Linked DNA regions of Homo sapiens. The protein of the gene in region 3 purifies or fractionates together with the protein of the main gene of each other region. This does not show direct contact. Each region holds a gene or a part of one and is shown on either strand. Other genes may lie near its edges. The genes, in order: PPP2R2D, TBL2, SARNP, PRCC, PPIG, ZC3H14 and SEPTIN7.

Evidence for each region.
Region 1: the proteins of SARNP (region 3) and PPP2R2D purify together in Homo sapiens (affinity purification with mass spectrometry; 2 studies listed by BioGRID and IntAct, with this or other methods). This does not show direct contact.
Region 2: the proteins of SARNP (region 3) and TBL2 fractionate together in Homo sapiens (co-fractionation; one large-scale study listed by BioGRID). This does not show direct contact.
Region 4: the proteins of SARNP (region 3) and PRCC purify together in Homo sapiens (affinity purification with mass spectrometry, with the first as the bait; one large-scale study listed by BioGRID). This does not show direct contact.
Region 5: the proteins of SARNP (region 3) and PPIG purify together in Homo sapiens (affinity purification with mass spectrometry; 2 studies listed by BioGRID and IntAct, with this or other methods). This does not show direct contact.
Region 6: the proteins of SARNP (region 3) and ZC3H14 purify together in Homo sapiens (affinity purification with mass spectrometry; 2 studies listed by BioGRID and IntAct, with this or other methods). This does not show direct contact.
Region 7: the proteins of SARNP (region 3) and SEPTIN7 purify together in Homo sapiens (affinity purification with mass spectrometry, with the first as the bait; one large-scale study listed by BioGRID). This does not show direct contact.

The regions. Positions count from the first base shown.
Region 1 is NC_000010.11:131,907,508-131,911,007, forward strand, and holds part of PPP2R2D (serine/threonine-protein phosphatase 2A 55 kDa regulatory subunit B delta isoform), read left to right. Parts: intron 1-3,500. UniProt on the Homo sapiens protein: Substrate-recognition subunit of protein phosphatase 2A (PP2A) that plays a key role in cell cycle by controlling mitosis entry and exit. Involved in chromosome clustering during late mitosis by mediating dephosphorylation of MKI67.
Region 2 is NC_000007.14:73,572,080-73,575,579, forward strand, and holds part of TBL2 (transducin beta-like protein 2), read right to left. Parts: intron 2,435-3,500; coding exon 2,304-2,434; intron 2,044-2,303; coding exon 1,859-2,043; intron 1,393-1,858; coding exon 1,241-1,392; intron 892-1,240; coding exon 765-891; intron 1-764.
Region 3 is NC_000012.12:55,797,225-55,800,724, forward strand, and holds part of SARNP (SAP domain-containing ribonucleoprotein), read right to left. Parts: intron 3,406-3,500; coding exon 3,338-3,405; intron 1-3,337. UniProt on the Homo sapiens protein: Binds both single-stranded and double-stranded DNA with higher affinity for the single-stranded form. Specifically binds to scaffold/matrix attachment region DNA. Also binds single-stranded RNA. Enhances RNA unwinding activity of DDX39A.
Region 4 is NC_000001.11:156,774,035-156,777,534, reverse strand, and holds part of PRCC (proline-rich protein PRCC), read right to left. Parts: intron 1-3,500. UniProt on the Homo sapiens protein: May regulate cell cycle progression through interaction with MAD2L2.
Region 5 is NC_000002.12:169,636,351-169,639,128, reverse strand, and holds part of PPIG (peptidyl-prolyl cis-trans isomerase G), read right to left. Parts: intron 2,717-2,778; coding exon 1,606-2,716; 3' UTR 1-1,605. UniProt on the Homo sapiens protein: PPIase that catalyzes the cis-trans isomerization of proline imidic peptide bonds in oligopeptides and may therefore assist protein folding. May be implicated in the folding, transport, and assembly of proteins.
Region 6 is NC_000014.9:88,569,537-88,573,036, reverse strand, and holds part of ZC3H14 (zinc finger CCCH domain-containing protein 14), read right to left. Parts: intron 1,954-3,500; coding exon 1,913-1,953; intron 1,008-1,912; coding exon 812-1,007; intron 460-811; coding exon 30-459; intron 1-29. UniProt on the Homo sapiens protein: RNA-binding protein involved in the biogenesis of circular RNAs (circRNAs), which are produced by back-splicing circularization of pre-mRNAs.
Region 7 is NC_000007.14:35,804,057-35,807,556, reverse strand, and holds part of SEPTIN7 (septin-7), read right to left. Parts: intron 1-3,500.

The DNA.
Region 1 (3,500 bases), on a different chromosome or scaffold from region 3:
AGGCGGGCGGATCACGAGGTCAGGAGATCGAGACCATCCTGGCTAACAGGGTGAAACCCCGTCTCTACTAAAAAAAATACAAAAAATCAGCTGGGTGTGGTCGCGGGCACCTGTAGTCCCAGCTACTGGGGAGGCTGAGGCAGGAGAATGGCATGAACCCAGGAGGCGGAGCTTGCAGTGAGCGGAGATCACGCCACTGCACCTCCAGCCTGGGCAGCAGAGCGAGACTCCATATCAAAAAAAAAAAAAAAAGATTCACAGACTCATCATGCTTAGTACAGCCACATCTTAACGCTCAGGAGGCTGGCCTGGTCATCGTTACATCGTGAAGTTAAGTTTACAAGATATGTGGTGGTATTGAATCATACCTGGTGATTTTCCACGTTCCCTGATTTTAAGCAGTCTGCTGTTCTGATGGGAAGTTCCAGGTTGGGTTTGTGTCTGCTGTTTTCAACTCTGAGGGCCCCTTTCTGAGCTTCAGCTCGCTTATCTAGAAGTTAAATCAGAAGCTTTTTGTTAAGATCAAACAATGTGCAGTGCTGTTGCAACTTGAAAAGTGCTTTTCAAGTATTAGATACAACTGTTAATTCTCTTGTATTTTAAAGTATTGGGGCTTGGTTTTAGCTATATTTAAACACAAAAATAGCAGTTTCTTGTTTTTCCTTACCTGCTTCATGTCCATCTACCCAGATCCCTTCCACTGGGCCTGGCCTCTTAATGTTTACGTTATTATTCAGTGATTATTCCCATCCCTTGATCTTTGCTCCTGTTTCTTTCTTTGCCTAGAGTATTTATTTTGCTTCCTGTCCATTCCCTAAGCCCTGCTGATCCTTCTAAATCCACCTCCAATCCCACTTGGCGAGTCCCTGCTCCAGCTCCCCTCAGCGTTCAGTGTCGTCTTAGACTCCAGATTTCCCTTTCACACTGTGTTCCATGTTGTTTAGCAATTGGCTGTGTCCTGCTTGTGGTTCCCTTATTTTATCACATGTATTATTAGGCTCGTCTCTCCCACTGGATGTCAGTCAGCATATGGAATGTCATGATATTACCAGGTGATGGAGAGGAATTGTGCACGTGGAATTTGGTACACATCCCTTTTTCACCCTCTTCAGGCTTTGTGTTAACTTGGGAAGTTACTTACTCTTTTCTCATCTGTTAAACGGGTACTATTACTTGTGACCATTACAGGGTTGCTGTGAAGATTCCAGAAAATGTATGGAAAGCTCTGACAAACAAACACGTTAACTGGTAACTGTTCAGAGGCTGTTGTCTTAAGAGACCCTCTTGCATAGGAAAATAGCTGACTCTGTCACTTCAGGGAGCCAGTTTAAGAAAAATGAAGGGTAATGCAGGGGCCAGCTTTCAGCTTGGCACATCTGAAAAGTTCACGACAGCATACCAAAGGGCTGCTAGTGCTGGCTGTTGGAAATAGAAATGCAGTTCTTGCCTTCAGGAAACGCTGTTTGGACACAGACAAGCAGGTGGGTCCTTGCACCATGGCTGGACCAGAGCACACTGAGGCAATGTGAAGAAGTACCCAGTACACAGACTTGGGTAGGGAGTGGAGGGGAGGACATCAGGGTATAAGAAGAGGGAGGAAGGGAAGGGGAGGAGAATGTTCCAGGTGGAGAGTGCTTGGTGTGGAGGTTGGACAGAGCATGGTATGTTCTGAGAGGTCAGTGCTTGGCATGGTCCTCTGGCAGAAAAGGGAGTGGCTGTGATGAGCAGGAGGCTGGCTGGGGCCACAGGATGATGAATAAAGGACTTGAATCGTGTGCTCAGGACTCTGAGTGATTGTGAGCTTTTCAGATCCTAAGCGGAGGAGCGACATCAGCTTTGTTTTTAACAAGGTCACTCTGCCCTTTGGAGAGTGGATGGTGGTGGGTAAGAATGGAGATAGGAAGTTACTGCAATAATAAAGATTGGGAAAATGGGCTTACTCTAGTTTCGGGGTGGCCAAGCTTTTTTGTAAAGGGCCAAATGGTAAGTATCTTAGACTTTCAGGCCATCCTGTCCCTGTTGCAACGACTGAATTCAACTCTGCCTTTAGCAGGAAGACAGCCATAGACCCTGCAGAGATGGATGGGCGTGGCTCTGTGCCCTGCTTCCACAGGAGCATGCCTACAGAAAACAGGCAGCTGGCCAGATGTCGCCCAGGTTGTGGTTTGCTAAACCCTGACCTAGAGTTGGTTTGCAAAGTCTTTTGGTGCTGGAATAATTTTATACTCTTAATAGTTATATTGAGGATCCAGAGAGCCTTTGTTTGTGCTGGTTATCGCTGTTGATGTTTTCTATATTTGAAATTAAAACAGAACAACTTACAATATTTATTTTACTTTAAAAGAATCTACTACATGTTAACATAACCTTTTTAATGAGAAACAACTTTTCAAAAACAAAAAGATTAAGCAAGAAGAACAGTGTTGTTTTACACTTTTGCACATCCTTTTAAAATATGAGGTTTAAGAGGTGACGGCTGGATTCTCAGACCTGCTTCTGCATTCCGTGTGTTCCAGTTGCTTTATTGAAATGTGTAAGGAAAATGTGGCGTCACACTTCCATGTGGGCAGAAGAGGGGTCATCCTGGAGGCTCTTAGCGATGCACCATAACTCGCCAGGTGGCAGCGTGTTTGAGTGTGCCGGCCTTTCGGAGTCAGTGACGTTTCTGTACTCTCTTCCGTCAGAACCCTGAGGTCTGTCTTGTGCTCAGAGTGGGTCTTTTGCTCATGGACATGATTTGGTAACATCACACGGGGGTTGTTTGGAAATATTGTTACATGGAGTTGTTTTTTTTTCTAAATGTTAACACATTCCATTATGTAAACTTGAAGAAAATCCTATTTTTTAATGTCATCACTGATCTCATCAGAAGAAAAAGTGAGAAACTGTCAAATTAGCAGTAGTAGAGAAAAGTTTTCCAAAATTCTAATTTTCTCTTGAAAGCTTGGATTTTATCATTGGTAACAAATACTGTCAGTTACTTTCTGTGAAGTGAGGGACGCAGTGTGTTCATTTTCAAGTCAATTTCTGCCAGATACCAAATTCTTAATAACCAAAGTTGGTCAGTTGTTCTTTCAAATAAAAATGGCATTCCATGAAAAAAAGGGCTAGTTCAGCTTGTGTGATACTGTGGAATATGTATTTGGTCTTCCCTAGTACACAACTCCTAAAATCCTCGGGCTCGTCAGTGATGTCTTCGTAATGCGTTGGCTAAGGGCCGGCAACCCCTGGGTAGCTTCAGAACAGGGGCTGGTCACCAGAAAGACCTAGGCAGGATTAGAAGGTTGGGACTTTCAGCCCCGATCCCCAACCTCGGGGAGTGGTGAGGGGTGGGGGAGCTGAAGGTTAAGCTGATCACCAGTGGCCAAACAGTCTTGCCTATGTATGGACTGGGTTTGAAGATAGCTTCCAGATGTTTCTGGAGGGGGGCCCACCCAGAGAGGACACGGGAGCTCTGTGTCTCAGCCCCCGTCCCTCGCCCTGTGCATCACCTCAGTGTC
Region 2 (3,500 bases), on a different chromosome or scaffold from region 3:
ACCACAACAAAAAAGTTCTTTTATGTATGTGACCTCAGTTTATCTTCTAGCCTTGTTCTAAGATATGTAACATCCCCGCCCAAAGGTGGCTTGGCACAGTGGCTCACGCCTGTAATTCTACCACTTTGGGAGGTCGAGGCAAGAGGATCACTTGAGGCCAGGAGTTCAGGACCAGCCTGGGCAACATAGTAAGACCCCATCTCAACAAAAAATACAAAAATTAGCCAGGTGTGGTAGTGCACGCCTGTAGTCCCAGCTACTCGGGAGGCTAAGGTGGGAGGATGGTCTGAGCCTGGGAAGTCAAGGCTACAGTGAGCTGTGATTGCGCCACTGCACTCCTGCCTGGGCGAGGGTGAAACCGTCTCAACAAACAAACAAACAAAAAACAAAAATTAGCTGAGTACAGTGGCACATGCCTATAGTCCTGACTACTCAGGAGGCTGAGCTGGGAGAATAGCTACAACCCAGGAGTTTGAGGCTGCAGTGAGCTATGATCGCACCACTGTGCTCCAGCCTGGGTGACAGAGTGAGACTAATTTTCTAAAAAACAAAAACACTGAAGATGAAGAAATAGCGACTAAGGACATGGGGCGACCTGCATGAAATCCCACTACTGCAAGTGGGGAGAGCTGAGACTTGAAGCTCGGGTTCCTGACCCCACCCCGTATGCTCTTCCCACGCGATGAAGCTGGCTCTCTGTTCTGTGCCTGCTCCCCAGCCCCAGCCTCTCGTGGTCCCAGACGCCAATACCCCTCCTTGCCCACCTGCCACAGGGAGATACAGCAGCGTGTGTGTTGTTCATCTGGTTGGTGTTGATGGTAGACAGCACTTGACCCTTCAGGCTCCAGATGAGGACAGTGGTGTCACTGGAGGCAGTCATGATAAACTTCCCTGAGCGGGAAGGGAGTGATGTGGGTCACGGGCAGTGACCTGACCAACTGTCACTCTCCAAAGACACTTACAAGGCCTCTGCTGCCCGAAGTATACATGTCTCCTCCCAGGCCAAGGGTCACTACAGATAAGGACTCTGCTGAAGACTGTGGCCCTTCCCCACCTTCCCTAGGGACCTGGTGTGGCCCAGGGACTCCAGGGGAGCACAGAGCCAGGCTGTTCAGAGCCAGGGACCCCTTGTTCCTCTCAGGTTGAGCAGAACTTTCAGGCAGCATTAACTCATTGAGGAAATAGAACTGGATCTTTCCTTCATGCTTTGGGCAGGCGCCACCCTCTGAATGCCTCTTACCTGTGTTAGCAATGCCAATGTCGATGACAGGCGCCTTGTGCTTTTTAGGGAAGTCCTCTGGGGTGGCTGTGAAGGTGTAGCCCCCATCCTCCCGCTTGGTCATCTTGAAGACACGGAGGGTGTCCCCGTTGGCCAGCCAGACGATGAAGGCTCTAGAGACAGGCAGCAGACAAGTCACGCTCTCACTGGACAAAGAGGCTCTGTGTTCCAGGTCCTGTGCTGGGTTCTCGGGGAAGTCAAGATCTCTCCTCATGCCCCACAGTCTAGCCTTAAAACTTAAGCCCCTGGTTCCAAATCTCATAAAACTCCTCAAAAGGTAAGATTCTGATAGCTTTGGCTCCTTTAGTTTCTCTCTAGGGTTTAGAAACTAAGGCTCATCTGGAAGCCAGGCCAAGGTATTTCCAGGTAGGAAGAGACCTCCCCCTGTTTCCTTGCTGTATAGCAGCCCAGATCTCCAGGGAGCCCCAGGCAGCGCGCAAACTATGTGGATGCTCTTTCTGGCACCCCAAGGGAGGCCCTGGGTCCAGGTCCCTCCTCACTACCTCAAAGCAGATATGGGAAGGCCAAAGCCTGGGACTAGGCCTCTGCAGGCAAACCTGAGGCTCCGTCTTGTCCCACCTGCAGTCAGGGCTGAAGCGCACCAGGGTGGCGTGGTCCAGCTCCACGTTGGCTCTCATGCTGCGGTGCTCTCGCTGCAGGAAGTCCTTGGTGCTCCAGATGCGGATGGTGCGATCATCTGCACAGGTAGCCAGGTATTTGCCATTGCTGCTAAAGTCCATGCAAGATATGTTCCCGCTGTGGCTCTAGGGGAAGGGTGGCAGGAAGTGTCAATAGGAGCTCCTGGGGGAGATGGGGAAGCCAAACCTGGAGCCGGGGAGATGGGGCCCTGTGGCCTGGATTAACAGCAAGCTGAGATTGGGCTGCGATGAGAGGGGACAGAATTAAGCACCCCCGCTGATTCTGATCAGAGGCAGGAGAGCCTGTAACATGCATGGAATACTCCAGAGGAAAAGCCTGTGGGGCTGAGTCTCAGGGTGCACGCTGTGCCAGGTACCCCACGTACCTTCAGAGCTGCAGCCAGGAGGCGGTGGGTGAAGTTGTGTTGTTGAGGCTTCTCCTTCCGAATCCGCTGATATTGTTTCTGCTTCTTGGATCCCGAAGATTTGTCAGGTGGAAATCCATTTGCTTTTTGGCCTATAAGGAAGGGCCATGTTGTTCTCCAGTTACTCACTGATAAGCATTTACTGCCCACCTATGATGAGCCAGGCATTGAGTGGAACAGCAGGAGATTAACCAGATATGGCCCTTGTCTTCTGGAGGAGAATGAGTGTGATATGGGCAAAAACAGAGGCTTTGGCTGGCTGGGTATGGTGGCTCATGCCTGTAATCCCAATGCTTTGGATCATTTGAGCCCAGGAGTTCGAGGCTGCAGTAAGCTATGATCACAACACTACTGCATTCCATCCTGAGTGACAGAGCAAGACCCTGTCTCAAAAAAAAACAAACAGAAAACAGAAACAAAACAGAGGCTTTGGAATCAGACCTGGGTTTGGATTCTGTCTCTACTACTGACTGACTACTGAGGAGGCTGTTTACAGTAAGTCCACAGAGCACCTTCATGTAGAGTGGAAAAGGCGCACTCTCTGGGTTGGGTGATGCTGCTGGGCGGGTACACAGCACGGCCAGTGGAGTGTGGATCCTTGGCCAGACATCCCTATGTAGGGAGTAATGTGCACAACCATCTCTAGCGGCCCTGCTTTGGGTAAGTTAGTGAATTGCTCTGGACCTTGGTTTTTTTTTTCTTTTCTTTCTTTCTTTTTTTTGGAGACAGAGTCTTGCTCTGTCGCCCAGGCTGGAGTGCAGTGGCGTGATCTCCGCTCACTGTAGCCTCTGCCTCCCAGGTTCAAGCAATTCTTGTGCCTCAGCCTTCCAAGTAGCTGGGATCATGGGCGTGCACCACCATATCCAGCTAATTTTTTTTTTTTTTTTCAGATGGAGTCTCGCTCTGTCACCCAGGCTGGAGTGCAGTGGCGTGATCTCAGCTCACTGCAAGCTCTGCCTCCCGGGTTCACGCCATTCTCCTGCCTCAGCCTCCCAAGTAGCTGGGACTACAGGCGCCCGCCACCATGCCCGGCTAATTTTTTTTTGTATTTTTAGTAGATGTGGGGTTTCACCACATTAGCCAGAATGGTCTCAATCTCCTGACCTTGTGATCCACCCGCCTCGGCCTCCCAAAGTGCTAGGATTACAGGCGTGAGCC
Region 3 (3,500 bases):
TCTTCCACCCTTTTATTGGAAATCCCTGGACTGAAGACAAGCAATGGGTGCCCCCTGCTGACTATAACGAAGTCCTACGATATGTAACCGCTTTAGCTGGTTGGGGGTTGGGAATCAAACTAGAAACAGGTATATTTTTGGAGAACTTCAGGCCAAACATGAAGAAGGGGATCTCCTTTTAAATAGTCAAGGAATCTAAACTAGCCCTGGCTATTCTGACGTTTAAAGAAATTTCTAAACGCTTCCCATTTCCTTGCCATCCTTCCCTAACCTTGTCTTATAATTTAGGCACAAAAGGCTAAAGTTTAATGTTTTACTTGAAATCCAATGCCATCAAGAAAGTAGTACTCTCCATCAACCCCAGTGTAATGACTTCCTCCCCATTACCATTCTGAAGCACAGTCAATGCAGTGCACATCATGGCAGAAAGGGAACCCCAGACGGGAAGTTTCCTTCCATTCTATTACAATTCCCTTAGGCAACTAAACTCAAGCGCAATAAATAAACATCGAATTCTGGGATGCATGGGAAATTTCCACTCTTCACTGAGAAATTTCTCTCCTACCCAATCACATAAACAACATTCCCTGAAATACAGAGACCCAGAATCTTTTTGTACATACTTCAGTCTAACCACAACTATCCTCTAAAAATCAAAAACGATCACCCCACCCACTTCAATTTCCTTGTTTCAAAATTCATTAATAGAATTAAAGCCCCCTGAACAGAATGCACATTTTAAATATTCTATGAATAATGAACTTCAAACTTTCGAACCTCTATTTTTTAACCCACAGAAGCCAATTATCATGGTATTCACTTGATCTTCTTTCTTGTTCCAGAAATCCCCATAACATTTCTATTTTAAAGCTATCTCACAAAGTCATTTTTTCAAGGCACTATATCTAATTATAAACATCTTATGATGGAAAGATAACTAAATGGCTTTAGAAAGTAGTATTTGATAGGCTGGAAAGTAGTATTTGATAGGCAGGTGATTACTGGCTCACACCTGTAATCCCAGCACTTTGGGAGGCCAAGGCAGGTGGATCGCTTTGAGCTCAAGAGTTTGAGACCAGCCTGGCAAACACGGCGAAACCCCATCTCTACAAAAAATACAAAAAAAGAGCTGGGTGTAGTGGCTCGTGCCTGTAGTTCCAGCTACTCAGGAGGCTGAAGCTGGAGGACTGCTTGAGCCGGGAAACGGAGGTTGCAGTGAGCCAAGATTGTGCCACTGCACTCCAGCCTGGACAACGGAGTGAGTCCCTGTCTCAAAAATAAATAAATAAAGGGATATTTGACAAAAATCTATCAAGATGTTAAATGTACATCCTCTGTGATGCAGCAAATCCACTGCTAGGAATTTACCCTGTGGGTATACTTGTGAGTATAAATAATTAGAAAAGGACATGCAGAACTACATTTTTTTTTAATGAATAATCTAAATGTCCATCAACAGAAGACTGGTGAAATAAATTACTGTTTATCCATAGAATGCAATACTATTAAATGCTAGAAAGAACAAGGTTCTAAGTTGATAACTAGTAAATCTGGGTGATAGGTAGATGAGAGTCTATTACACTAGTCGAACTTTTGTATATACTTGTAATTTCCCATAATAAGCTAAACAAAAAGAGACCACTTCCTAGGATAATTATCCTGACTTTACAGGGTCTACTGAGGATAAAATGACAGTACATGTAAAACATTCAGAACAATGCCTAGCATATAACTCTTAAGAACAATGCCTAGCATATAACTAACACTTACATAAGAAAATGATGATATAAAAAATTTCCAGATGTGAAAAAAAATCAAGTGTGCACAGTGTGTGTATACGTGTATCTATATATACACATACATACATATACACATGTACAGACCCCATATATAAAATCTTCCAAAAGTATGTACTGTTCTAAAAACCTCAGTAAAGTCAGATCTGAGAATGGATACAAAGAGTACTTAATTCTTAATTGATATACTCCACTATGTACTGACTTTTTACTTGTAAATACACTGCCTTTTATAATTAAATGCACTAACACAACTATGAGGAACAAAAATGTTCAAAGTTTAGGACTCAACGGCTCTTAATGTACTATAGTACAAAATGGCCAGACATTTGTGGAAAAAGCCCCAAATTAAAGATGTTTAGGATCACCCTTGTGGAACAGTTTAAACAAATCAAGATCTACTTTCCATTCTAGCACTTTGTCCTCCCATCCTCCACTGTAAATCAGAAAGCAAGAGAGAACAGAGTGCTACTTCAGAAACATAACCTCTACCCAACACCCTCCTCCCTTACAAAACTCCTTTATATAGAGTGTCACACTTTTTTTTTTTTTTTTCCCGAGACAGCTGTGGCTCCCAGGCTGGAGTGCAGTGCCACAGTCTCGGCTCACTGCAACCTCCACCTCCCAGGTTCAAGCAATTCTCCTGCCTCAGCCTCCCAAGTAGCTGGAATTACAGGTGCCCTCCACCACGCCCAACTAATTTTTGTATTTTTAGAAGAGACAGGGTTTCACCATCTTGGCCAGGCTGGTCTTGAACTCCTGACCTCGTAATCCACCCACCTCGGCCTCCCAAAGTGCTGGGATTACAAGTGTGTGCCACCGTGCCTGGCCTCAGTTTTACACTTTTCCAGAAAAGTGCAAAACTCTTATGAACAGTTAACAGAATGGGCCGGGCACGGTGGCTCACACCTGTAATCCCAGCACTTTGGGACGCCAAGGCAGACGGATCATTTGAGGTCAGGAGTTCAAAACCAGCCTGGCCAACATGGTAAAACCCTGTCTCTACTAAAAATACAAAAATCAGTCGGGCAGTAGTGGCACACACCTATAATCCCAGCTACTCGGGAGGCTGAGGCAGGAGAATTGCTTGAGCCTGGGAAGCAGAAGTTACGGTGAGCCAAGATCACGCCACTGCACTCCAGTCTGGGCAACAGAGTGAGATCCTGTCTCAAAAAAAAAAAAGTTAACAGAGTTTACACAGTTTTACACTGCATACAGAATTGTACAGATTCTCTATAGAGTAACAGAATAATCTATTATGGTGACCCTACAAAAGAACAACAAAGGCTAGGAGAATTAAACTATGTCTGGTCTTGAAGTCACCTGGTCCTCATTACCTATTACATAACTCAGAGACAATTTGCTTTACTTCACTGGGACCAAGTACTTTGAAGTAGTCCCTTCTAAAAAACAAAAAAATGACCTAATCAGAAAGGAAAAGGCCAATGGGAACATGTAAGAGGTAAACAAAGTTAAACATTAAATACATTAAGAAAAGAGCTGCCTGCTCTGTACTCAGATTATAAAAAAGGGATAATTACACATCAACAGTTTTTTCAGGGGGTTCTTCCTCTTTGACAGGGAGCTCAATGGGCTTTGTTTCTTCTTCCTAAAACCAAATGAAACAAGGTGGTTAACATAAATCTAAAGAATAAATATCTATCAAAAGAAGAACATCAGAACTCCAAAATAAACCAGTCTCTC
Region 4 (3,500 bases), on a different chromosome or scaffold from region 3:
TTTTTTTTTTAACCCGTAAGGGAAATCCATCTTAGTATCTAAATGTGGGGGATAAAGGAAAAGGGTGGCAAAGGAAAGGACAACCATCCACCAAGTGCTTCCTATGTATCAGGCAATTTACTCATTTTTCATTTAATTCTTATAATAACACTTCAAAGTAGGCATTATTATTATCTCAACTTTATGGTGAAGAAAGTAAGGCTCAGAGAGATAAAATAGGATGGGGCAGAACCAGGATCAGAACCAGTTCCAGTGCCCGTGCTTTTGCGGGAACACCAAACTGAGCTGTCTGCTGTCCAGGTCTGAGATTCACACTCACTAGATCCCACACGACACAGCTGAGAGAGCATGAAGCACAAAATCAGAAGCACTGGTTTGAGTCTCAGCTCTGCCCCTCACTGGCTAAGGGATCCCGCTATTTAACTTCCCCAAGCCTAAGGTGCAAATAGTACTTACCCATGTCACAACCACAGGAGCTACTGCCAGTGAAAATGATACAAACTAAAATTCTAAACAAAGTTCAAAAATTATTATTTTCTCTGGTTTGCCAAGATATCAAACTCACCCAAGAAAAGACTTAAGCACCTGGCACCTAAGCATTTTCTACCTTTTCTTTCTGTTCTAAACTAACTCTCATTGCTCCTTACAGACTCCTCACCATCTCTCGTCTTTTGACCATGAAGACTTATCTCCTTTCTGGCAGACCACACAGAACAACCTCACTATGGGGTATATAAGGTTTTCATGGATTCCCCAAATACGTTTAAACTTTGACATCATAGGCAACAGGTCCAATGGCAATAATCTGAAATAAACAAATTTTACCCAAATTTAAGATGATTACATTTATAAAACTATACAAGCATATTCTTATTTTTCAGATCCTTTGAAAAACAAAAAGTGGCTACTGTAAGACTGTAATAGGCAAACTGCTCCACAGCTAATAGAATTGAAGGCCAGATCCACTGTGGAAAGAAAATTCAATTTCTCTGTAAATGTCACAAATTGTTTCCATTATACTGACAACCTGAGTTTATAGTTTAAAAGCACACACACAAAAAAAAAACCTCTATAAAGACTTCGGAACAGTCTATTATTTCTAGATTTAGAGGATTGCTATGGCTACTCACAATCATTCTTCTCTTTGAACATCTTTTTCCCTTGAGACATGGTCTTGCTCTGTTGTGCCCAGGCTGGAGTAGAGTGGCGCAATTACAGCTCACTGTAACCTCAAACTCCTGGGCTCAAGCAATCTTCCTGCCTCAGCCTCCCAGGTAGCTGGGACTACAGGCACTTGCCCACCATGCTCAGTTATTTTATTTTTAAAATTTTTTTGTAGAGATAAAAGGCAGGGTCTCACTCTGTTGCGCAGGCTGATCTCAAATTCCTGTCCTCAAGCAATCCACCTGCCTTGGCCTCCCAAAGTGTTGGGATTGCAGGCATGAGCCACTGCACACCCAGCCCGAACATCTTATATAAAACTTCTACCGACCCCTATTATGAATCATCTCATGACACACCATAAATGACAGACTCCCTGAAACAGAACACTAAAATGACAACTTCAAAAATGAGGCAAGGCGGGGATGGCCAGGCACAGTGGTTCACCCCTATAATCCCAGCATTTGGGGAGGCCCAGATGGGAGGACTGCTTGAGCCCAGGAGTTTTGAGACAAGTCTGGGCACTGTAGAGAGACCTCATCTCTACCAAAAAATTTTAAAAATTAGCCGGGTGCGGTGGCTCACGCCTGTGATCCCAGCACTTTGGGAGGCCGAGGTGGGCAGATCACAAGATCAGGAGTTCGAGACCAGCCTGGCCAATATGGTGAAACCCCATCTCTACTAAAAATACAAAAATTAGCCGGGGGTGGTGGCGGGTGCCGGTAGTCCCAGCTACTCGGGAGGCTGAGGCAGGAGAATCACTTGAACCCGGGAGGCGGCGGTTGCAGTGAGCTGAGATTGCACCACTGCACTCCAGCCTGGGCGACAGAGCGAGACTCTGTCTCAAAAAAAAAAAAAAAATTTTAAATCGGCCATGTGCCTGTAATCCCAGCTACTCAGAAGGCTGAGGTAGGAGGATTGCTTGAGCCAAGGAGGCCAAGGCTGAAGTAAGCTAAGATTGTGCCACTACACTCCAGGCTGGGCAACAGAGCAGGACCCTGTCTCCAAAAAAAAAAAACAAAAGAAAGAAAAATGAGGCAGGAGGATCACTTGAGCCCAGGGGTCTGAGGCCAGCCCAGATAACATAGTAAGACCCCCATCTCCACACAAAAACAATTTTTTTTTTGAGATGGAGCCTCCCTCTGCAGCCCAGGCTGGAGTGCAGTGGCGCAATCTCGGCTCACTGCAAGCTCCACCTCCCGGGTTCACACCATTCTCCTGCCTCAGCCTCCCGAGTAGCTGGGACTACAGGCACCCGCCACCACGCTTGGCTAATTTTTTGTATTTTTAGTAGAGATGGGGTTTCACCGTGTTAGCCAGGATGCTCTCGATCTCCTGACCTCGTGATCCGCCCACCTCAGCCTCCCAAAGTGCTGGGATTACAGGCATGAGCCACTGCACCCGGCCTTTTTTTTTTTTTTTTGAGACAGAGTCTTGCTCTGTCACCCAGGCTGGAGGGCAGTGGCACGATCTTGGCTCACTGCAACCTCTGCCTTCCGGGTTCAAGCAATTCTCTGCCTCAGCTTCCCAAGTAGCTGGGATTACAGGTATGCGCCACCACGCCCAGCTAATTTTTATATTTTTAGTAGAGATGGGGTTTCACCATCTTGGCCAGGCTGGTCTTGAACTATTGACCTCGTGATCCACCAGCCTCGGCCTCCCAAAGTGCGGGGTTTACAGGCGTGAGCCACCATGCCCAGCAAAAAAATTGTTTAAAAACATAGCCAGGTACAGTGGCACATTACTGTAGTCCCAGCTACTGCGGAGACTGAGGCAGCAGGGTTGCTTGAGCCCAGGAGGTAGAGGCTGCAGTAAGCCATAATCGAGACACAACATTCCAGCCTGGGCAACAGACTGAGACCCTGTTTCATTGAAAAAAAAAGAAAAAAGAAAAGAAAAAGGGCTGGGCACAGTGGCTCATGCCTGTAATCCCAGCACTTTGGGAGCCCGAGACGGGCGGATCACGAGGTCAGGGGTTCGAGACCAGCCTGACCAATATGGTGAAACCCCGTCTCTACTAAAGATACAAAAATTAGCTGGGTGTAGTGGCGGGCGCCTTAATCCCAGCTACTCAGGAGGCTGAGGCAGGAGAATTGCTTGAACCCGGGAGGCGGAGGTTGCAGTGAGCCAAGATTGAGCCACTGCACTCCAGCCTGGGCAACACAGAGAGACTCTGTCTCAAAAAAAAAAAAAAAAAAAAAAAAAAAAAAAAAAAAGGTGACTCAAAAAAAGAAAGAAACTCCGCACCCATTAAACAGTAACTCTTTATCCCCACCTCCCCCCAGCCCCTGGTAACTGCTATTCCACTTTCCATCTCTATGAATTTGACTTTTCTAGAT
Region 5 (2,778 bases), on a different chromosome or scaffold from region 3:
TTTCCAAGCAATCTTATGGTCATTACACTATTCATTCTGCAACAGCTACCACAACGCCAAATATATCAATATTGCATTAATCAATAGTGGGAAGTATCATGTTAATAATTGCTTTATTCAGTACAAATAGCATTGAGTAGCTACTGGATTTACCAAGAAGCTACCTTGGTAACAGAGTTGACACTACACTGACAAATATTAAAGTACAAAACTCTCTAGAGAATCCTATTAATTGGAATTTTGAAATTCCTTTTCAAATGAGGCAGGTTTTATGTTTGCTGGATGTTCAATGTTTTATTTAGAAGAGATTACAGAATAAAAGGCCACACATCACAAAAATGGCAAAATACAACACCCAAAACTCTAAATGGACTTTGGATATGTTTAGTGTTTAACTCTGTAAACTATCAAAATTTGCAACTTTCTACTCTACTCTATATGGCAATGTTATACATGCCAAGTTAAAATAACATTAACAGTAATGGTATAAAACCACCTGAAGAGAAAGAAACCAGAGTCATAAACATGCTATAGCCTATCGTGATACATATATAGAAAAGATGCATTTTCTTGCCATTTGGAACTCACAGCTATGAGAGTTAGAGAAGTCAGTTCAATTAAAACAAACAAAATCCATGCAGAGTTAACACTCAATTCTATATAGGTTGGAGGCCAAAAAAGAGAAATCTTAGAAGTTAATGTCTCAATACTAACAATTTTTAGAATCTGTATAGCTTAAGGACCTGCACAAATGGTATGTTTTAATGAGAAAAGCTTTTTTTTTTTTAAAGTTTAGAGAAGGGTAATTAATAATTAAAACGTTCCCAAAACTCTTCAAACCAAAAGCAACACAGAACTGAGAATCACAATCTGATTTTCCAAGGTATAGTTCCTGTCAAATGCTGTATAACAGCAACTCAAGCTCAATCAGTACATCAACTGAAAAAAATTACTCTTACGATTTTTATAGGCAGTTAAGTAAAACACAACTAGACAGGAAAAGCATTAATAGGAAACAAGCTATGGCTCGAACTATAAAGAATAGAGTATGAAGTGCAATATAAATACATCTATTTTAAAGCACAAATTACTATAAAATCAAAAGTGATGATTTAAGATCTCAGGTTATTAGGACCCTGCTTCTGTGTAATTAAAAGAAACCGCTGCAAACCTCTATTTATAACGCAATCAGAAAATCTATACAAGATGTCTTCTAGTGGCTTCTAAAGTTACTTTAATCATGAGAAACACAAGCTTTTGCAACAATGCATTGCAACCATTCCAAATGGCTGACTAAACAAATTAGGATGCTATTGGCTAATTGTTGCAACACAGTAATGCATACATAAAATAGTTAAACACAGCACACAGTACTACACCAAAGTGTTTTTCTCATGTCGAGTTTATTAAAACTTTAGCAGTACAAATTATCCAGATTGCAGATTATCAAAAAATCAACTCAATGAAATCCACATTAAGAAAAAAAAGGACAAACATAAAACAATCCAAAAACAATGAAAAGGAAAACAACATAAAGGAGATTCATTAGCAAGTCTCTCAAACTTAAAATCCGAAACAGAATGGAAGTAAGTTTATATAACTCACTCATCCGCTTTTGTCTTCATCTGTTCCAGGGCTTGATTCATGATCAAATTTTTTATTTTTTTCATGTACATGGTCATTTTCTTGACCTTTTGATTTTTGGTTTTCTTTTTCCACTGAGGATCTGATCTTCTCATCCTCCTTATTTTTCAACATGGAGGACTTTAATTCATTGTCCTGACTGCTTTGTTTTATTTTTGAGAAGGGACTTTGATCTCTATCAGCCTTTTTTTCCCTGCTGTTATTTGAGCTATTATGATCACGACTTTTAGAGTACATTCTTTTCTCACTCTCAGAATTTTCTTTTCTGTGTGAGCTCTTACTCTCTTGGTTTCTGTATTTGTCTTTGTTTCTGCTTTGACTTTCTTCTCTCTCTGAGCTCCGTGAGTCTCTCCTCCTTCTCCTCCTATCTTTACTTCTTGATCTTCCTGGTGGTGTTCTTCTCTCTCGGCTTCGTGACCGTCCTCTTCTCCTGTATTCCTGTTCTCTGTATCTATGGTACTCCTTGCTTCTGCTGCGATCTCTGTCATGGGTTCTTGATCGCACTCTTCTGCTTCTGTCCCTACTTCTGCTTCGTTCTCTTGTTCTGCTATTATAACTGTGTTTACCTTTAGTTATATCACATTCTCTACTCCTGGATTGTGCGCGTCTATCCTTTTCCTTACTTTTACTGTGATCATGCTCATTACTCTTTGATTCTAACTGTTTAGACTTCTCTTTACTTCTACTCCTTTCCTGATCTTTTCCTTTAGAATCAGACTGCTTTTCTTTTTCTTTAACATTTTCATGATCCCTTCCTTTACTCCTTGACCTCATCCTCTTTTCTTCATTTCTATTATGTTTTGAATCTCTTTCTTTACTCTTTGATTTCTCTTTGCTCTTACTCCTACTTTTAGATTTGGCCCTTTTCTTCACTTTGTTTTTATACTTGTCATCTTTTTCTGAATTTCTTCTGATGTCTCTCTCTTTGCTGTTAGATTTATGGTCTTTAACTTTCTTCTCCTTTTCATTTTTTCTGTTTGGACTCTCAGATACATTCCTGTGATCTGTTATTTTTCTCTCTTTTACTCTAACTGGACTTCTCTGATTTTCTTTTATTTCATTCAACTCACTCCTAAAAAATAAGAAAAAGAATTGGGGAAATGTTATTAGGAAAAGAACTGTAGATATTATTAG
Region 6 (3,500 bases), on a different chromosome or scaffold from region 3:
TAAGCCAGAATTTAAAAGTACATACAAACCTCCATACTCATTTTCTCCGAGTTGTTTCTAAAGAACGGACTATACGTTTCTTCTAAGCTGTTAAGCACCTCTGGTTCACACAAACGTCCTGTTTCATATACCCAACTACTCTGCATATCAAGCTGCTTGGCAGCATGAATACTATTCTGCTGCTGTTGAAATTGCAACCTGTTTAAATGAACACCACTATCTGCATTTCTACTTGCAGGTGGTCGATAAATTTCAATAGAAGGGCGAGAAGAACCATATGTAAGTGTCACTGTAGGTTTTTTCTGAGATAAGGGATTCTCCTGCACAAAGTTGAGGTCTTCGTCAATGAGATCATCTGGTTCTGGCTTAATATCAATCACATCTTCAGAGGGTGCTGGCTCCCTCAAAGGTTTCACTGTTGACATTAGTCGGGTTGCAGCTCCATCATCGTAAGTCTGTCTATTTAAAAGAACAACAAAATGTATTACAGCCAAATTAGGGCAATTATCACCAAATCTTTAAAGAATGTTTACTTGAAAAATTTCAATGAAAAAACTGAGGATACTCCCTTTACATATTCCATTCAAAACTGCTTTGAAATTGCACTTTCTTTCAACTTTGATTTACTAAATTTGTGATAAAAGATAATCATACTTAGATCTTATCCATTATTTTATTCAAAAAACTACTCACGATCACTTCATTGTTTCTAAAAATTGCTGAGAACAGCAAACTGAAAGATATAAAAACTAATATAAATGTCACATACACAGAGCCATCTGCCCCCAGCAGGTCTACACCAGACTCTTACCTGACATTTGTGGTTTTTGACTCCTGCGAACTTGTAGAAACTCTGGAATCTCTTTTTTCAGGTCTCGCGCTAGGAATGGCAAGTGGTGGCACTGCAGCTTCATGCCTCCTCTCATCTCCCCGACTGAAATTGCTCTTGTTTGAAGGCACGTTACTATCAAAGATGTTGGTATCAGAAGACTTCAGACTAGAGGGTTCTGAAAAGAAAAATACAGTCCTTTTAATCTATTTTTATTTCTTATTTTTATTTATTTATTTATTTTTGAGATGGAGTCTCGCTCTGTCGCCAGGCTGGAGGGCAGTGGCGCGTTCTCGGCTCCCTGCAACCTCCAAATCCCTGGTTCAAGCGATTCTCCTGCCCCGGCCTCCCAAGTAGCTGGGATTACAGGCATGTGCCACGATGCCTGGCTAATTTTTGTATTTTTAGTAGAGACGGAGATTCACCATGTTGGTTGGCCAAGATGGTCTCCATCTCCTGAGCCCATGATCCGCCCACCTTGGCCTCCCAAAATGCTGGGATTACAGGCGTGAGCCACCGTGCCCGGCCATCTATTTTTATTACTTTAAGTCGTTTCCTTCCTCATCACCAATTCAAAAGCAGTATGTTTATTGTAGAAAATTTTAAAAATATAATAAAAATCACCAATTATCTCAAAGGTGATTTTTCGGGGGAAGAGCATATATACACATTTTTTAAAACATGTATCTTATGCGTGTATATTCTGTTATTCTTCCACAACATTATTTTTAATAGTTAAATATTATTCCACACATGGTAATACAACAATTTCGTTTATTATGACTGAACTTTTAAATTGTTTTCAATTATAAAATACTGAAATATCCTTGAGGCTAAATCTTTGCACATATATGTAATTATTTCCTTCGGATAAAGTGCACTGCTCCCTCTCCCACACTTAAATTATCTTTGAATTATGTTAAATTTACTGCTCTTAAGTTCATAAAAGTATGTGCTTTCTAAAAAAGTTCAAATGAACCGTTTTGAAATTGATGGGTTTTTCCCAAAGCACTATGACTTTAGAAAGAAACAAATCATATGCCATAGCAAGCAGAAATTAAAAAAAAAAGTTATGAATCTTACCAGTTGTAACAGAGCGAAGTTTATCTAATACACCATGAAGCCTGAGGAAAAAAACAAAAAACAAAAATAAACCTTCTGTTAAGAAAGATTTCATTTCAACTGTCACTCTAAATTTATGACATTATATTCAGAGATAATTTTTTAAATTTTTTTATATTTTTATTATTTTTAAATAGAGATGGGGTTTCACTGTGTTGTCCAGGCTGGTCTTGAAGTCCTGGACTTGAGAGAACCACCTGCCTCAGCCTCCCAAAGTGTTGAGATTACGGGCGTGAGCCACCGCACCTAGCTGAGATAAATACTGATAAACTGTATTTAGTGAATAAATGGTATGAACTTTCAAACTTCACATTTTTAAAAAAGGGCTTTGTATAAATCCTACAGAAGTCAATAAAAAATTGTATTTTTTTCTTCACTGTTTTCAACATCTAGCCTCTGCAAAAATATGGGAAAGAATATCATCTGACCAGTCTTAGTCTACAAAATATGTCACCCTGTTTGTAAGTACTAAAGATTTACTGTAGCTTACAGTAAAACAAGTATCATAAACATGTAATATTGCTTATTATTACCACCATTTAAGCAGCTTATATTAACTGCTTAAACTAGATGGTGTCTTGGACAACTTAATTCTGAGAGGTTAAAACAAGTTATAATCTCAAACTATGCTATATCATTTCACTCTATTACTTTCAAAACTGATGCTGTAAGGCTGTAATCTTGCTTGTAACATAACCTGTTTTGGTAGTTATAAATGAGGTACTTTGCCTTACATCCCTTCCCAGTACCTCTCAAAATATGCCAGAAACCTCATGTTTCAATGAGAACCCTAGTCACATGCTACTGTCCCCACGGACACAATTACTTCAAGGCTCCAAATAATCACAATAGTCTGTTTGGGGCTGGTGTTAATGAACACTAACTTAAGAAAGCAAAGTGCCAAAATGGGGACATCACCCTTTGCTTCACTACATGTTAAAGAACTCAATTTATGGCCAGATGAGAATGTTGAATTAATTTGGTTTTAAATTCATTTGGTAGTCTGTTTTAAAAATCTAAGTATTCTATCAAGTTATCGGAGAAAAGGATCTACTCGGTCGCTTTAGAAAAAAAAATAGTACTCACAATAATGGTAATTTTCCCAGTCAAAAGACCCACAGTCTTTTTTTGTGGGGGGCTGGGAGGGAATAACCTCTGGGGACAAATTGTAACAAATGGGTTGGGTCACCCACAGTGAGGCAGCAGTGTATCATAACAACTGATGACCACTATACAATGTTCTTCAAATTTGTGCAATGTATAAACCCAGAGAATTCTGTGCAGAATTTCAAGACGGTTGATAAGCATACAGTTGCCTACTTGGGCAAAAACACCTTGAAGACGACCTTTGGTATAAAGGCAAGAACTTAACCAGGCTCATCTCCCCACTCAGTGCCTCCTCTTGCACTCAAATTCGGCAGGCCACTTGCTCACTTCTGCTACATCATCACCTTTCACGGTAACTGGTAGTTCCTAGCCTGAGAAGCCTAATAAAGTATTTCGTCTGTCTATTCTCAGCTACATCATTATCCTCCAGCCCTCATCCTCA
Region 7 (3,500 bases), on a different chromosome or scaffold from region 3:
CCCGTCTCTACTAAAAATACAAAAATTAGCCGGGCGCGGTGGCGGGCGCCTGTAGTCCCAGCTATTCAGGAGGCTGAGGCAGGAGAATGGTGTGAACCCGGGAGGCAGACCTTCTTACAGCGAGCCGAGATCGCGCCACTGCACTCCAGCCTGGGCGACACAGAGAGACTCCATCTAAAAAAAAAAAAAAAAAAAAAAAAAAAAATTCAGCCGGGCATGGTGGCACATGCCTGTAATCCCAGCTACTCGGGAGGCTGAGGCAGGAGAATCACTTGAACCGGGGAGGCGGAGGCTGCGGTGGCTGAGACTGTGCCATTGCACTCCAGCCTGGGCAACAAGAGCGAAACTCCGTTTCAAAAAAAAAAAAAAAGTTTTAAAAAAGCAATTTCAGAAATGAAAACAGAAACATCATAACATCCATGACCACAGCTTTCTTGATTGCTATGGTGTCAAAGTGTCTGATACTTCCTGGAGTCAAATACTTGTTAAATCAATGAACAAAGTTTACAAAAGTTTCAAATTACCACTGCAGGAATATTTCAAATATATTTTATAAAGCACAGCAAAACTGGTGGAAAATAGTTTTGATTTTCCTGAAAACAGTCAATCAGAGCCAAAGATTTTCAGGGCCCCATCCCAGGCCTATCATTTATCAAAGTGTGAAACACTATGAGAATCTGTATTCTTTGAAAAACACCATGACGTTCATTTTATTTGAAATCTTATATAATAAAGAAGTTATAGGGATGGGGAGACTTTAGAAAGTTACCCAGAAAAAACACTTTAAATGAGTCAACTAACAAAAACAAAAAAACTAATTCATGGCTATTAGAAATCTTATCAGTGGTTACCTGGGGCAGTAGAAGGAGAACTCCAACAGGGCACAAGAAACTCTGGGATGGTGGAAGTATTCTCTATCTTGATTAGAATAAAGGCTACAAGATGTGTGTATGCACATCAGCAATTCATTGAACTAAATACTTAAAATCCACGTATTTTTTTCTATGAAAGCATACAATAATGAAGTTACTTGATAAGTCGGAAAGCATTTGGAAATGTAGACTCCTGGGTCCCTCTCCCAGAGATTGCTAATCAATGGGTCTTGTAGTGGGAACCAGTTAATCTGCATTTTTAACTCCAAGCCATGGTTGACCCTTCAACCATACTTTAGAAAATAATGACCTAGCATAATGTTCTATGTCCAGTAATTACTGATCATGCTTTGCAAAAATATATCAATTAATGATAAACTTTTAATACAAAAAAATCTAGGTAATTTTGATTCCCAAGTTTAGGAAATACTAAGAATATTAAGTGGTAGGAGTTCCAGGAAGAAGTAAAAAGTAAGACAGTTAAGGAAGCTTGTTCCTTCTTCCCCGTCTCCCACAATCCTTCAATGGCTCTCCATCACCTAGTGCAGTGGTTCTCAACCAAGGATGATTCTGCTCCCCCACGTGACATTTGGCAATGTCTGTAGACATTTTTTTCATTTCACAACCAGAGAGAGCATGTGCTGCTGGCATCTTAGCACGATGACAGCAGGGATGCTGGTAAATACTGTACAATGCTCAAGACAGCCCTCCCCTCCCTCAAATAATTACAAAACCTCAAATGAGAAACTCTGACCTGGAGCCTCACCTCCAATAAAGCTACCAGAAGTAGTCAGTTGTGTCCCAGAGTTAAACAAAACAACAGAATTAAGATGTTACAACTTCAGGAAAGTCCATTTTTACTTCCAGATCAGTGGGGAAGGAGGAAGAATATCATCTTTATATTTCACATAAAGCAAACAAACATTGAATAAAATGCAAATGACACATGAATACTTAAGACTTAGAAAACTTCAAAATAACGTAAGCAGGAGCAGCTTCAGGCTATCCCCCCAATCACAGGGGATACTTAATTCTCAGCTTTCAAAGTATAGTATTTTTAAAGTTAACACTGGCCTAAAACATAATACTGTACATAAACTTTAGCATGACAGTCTGTTGCTGCAGCATAGTTTAACCTAGTGCTATGCAAAGTGTGGTCTGTGGACCAATGAGCCAGTCTGTGAATTATCAGTTTATGTCAGAGAAACACAAATTGAGAGCACAAAAATGGAAAATTTAATAGCAGAATAATTTTATGTCTATTGAAACTAATAATAAAAAATTGGGGCTTATAGTTTATCTTTCTTATTCCATTTCCACTTTTTTTATTTGCAGTATAGTCATGCAGTATGTCCAACGTTTGGTCAACAATGGACATTTATGACAGTAGTCCCATAAGATTACTATGGAGCTAAAAAAATTCATATCACCTGTGATGTCATAGCAGTCACAAGTTCATAGTACAGCACATCATCTTTTCTATGCTTAGAAGCACAAACACTTGGCCGGGCGTGATGGCTCACATCTATAATCCCAGCACTTTGGGAGGCCGAGGCAGGAGGATCACTTGAGGTCAGGAGTTCCAGACCAGCCTGGCCAACATGGTGAAACCCCGTCTCTACTAAAAATACAAAAATTAGCTGGGCGTGGTGGCGAGTGCCTGTAACCCCAGCTACTTGGGAGGCTGAGGCAGGCAAGCACCTGTAATCCCAGCTACTCGCGAGGCTGAGACAGGAGAACTGCTTGAACCCAGGAGGCAGACAGAGGTTGCGGTGAGCCAAGATTGCACCATTGCACTCCAGCATGGGCAGCAAGAGCGAAATTACGTCTCAAAAAAAAAAAAAAAAAACAAAAAAAGAAACACGCTTACCATTTGTCATAATTGTTTACAGTAGTCAGTACAATAACAAGCTATACAAGCTCATAGCCTAGAAGCAATAGGATATAGCCCAGGTGTATAGTAGGCTCTACCATCTAGGTTTGTGTAGGTAAAATACTCTATGATTTCTCAATGTACCGTATTGTTAACAACGCCTAACTGTAGTTTTTAAAATTACAATCTAACCTACTCTGACTGGTGTATCTATTGAGTAGCAAAGCCAAGATTTGCATCCATATCTAACATCAAAGCCCATGTTCTAAATCATTATTAAGATTTTGAACTCAAACCCCAATGTGTAATCCCTACATCTGGATAGCTGGACTGCACCAAGTGTAAGTCACAAGGATTTAGTGTGTGTCTGGTCTACGGCCTTCAACACTTAATGCCAGCCAAGCTGCCTCTTTGGCCCCTCTTCCCCAAGCCCATGCTCAAAGCTTAGTCTCCAGATCTCTGATGATGCAAAAGGACACAGGAAGACAAAAACAAAGAAAAGATTCATCCTCAAGGCCTAAAGCAGAGTCACCGAATGCTACCCTTTTCTTTTGGAAGCCACCCTGGTTTCTGGCTATGGGGGATAACATCCTCTCAAATAGGAGTAGGCCTCAGATCTCTCTAACCATGCGAGCTACATGGAGTACAGGATAAATGAATCCAAAGTAAGAAAAAGCCACACGGACTTAACAGTCTTTAATTTTAAAGTCTTCCTTCCTCACACCAAGACCTCCAACCCCTAACATAAGGTTCGA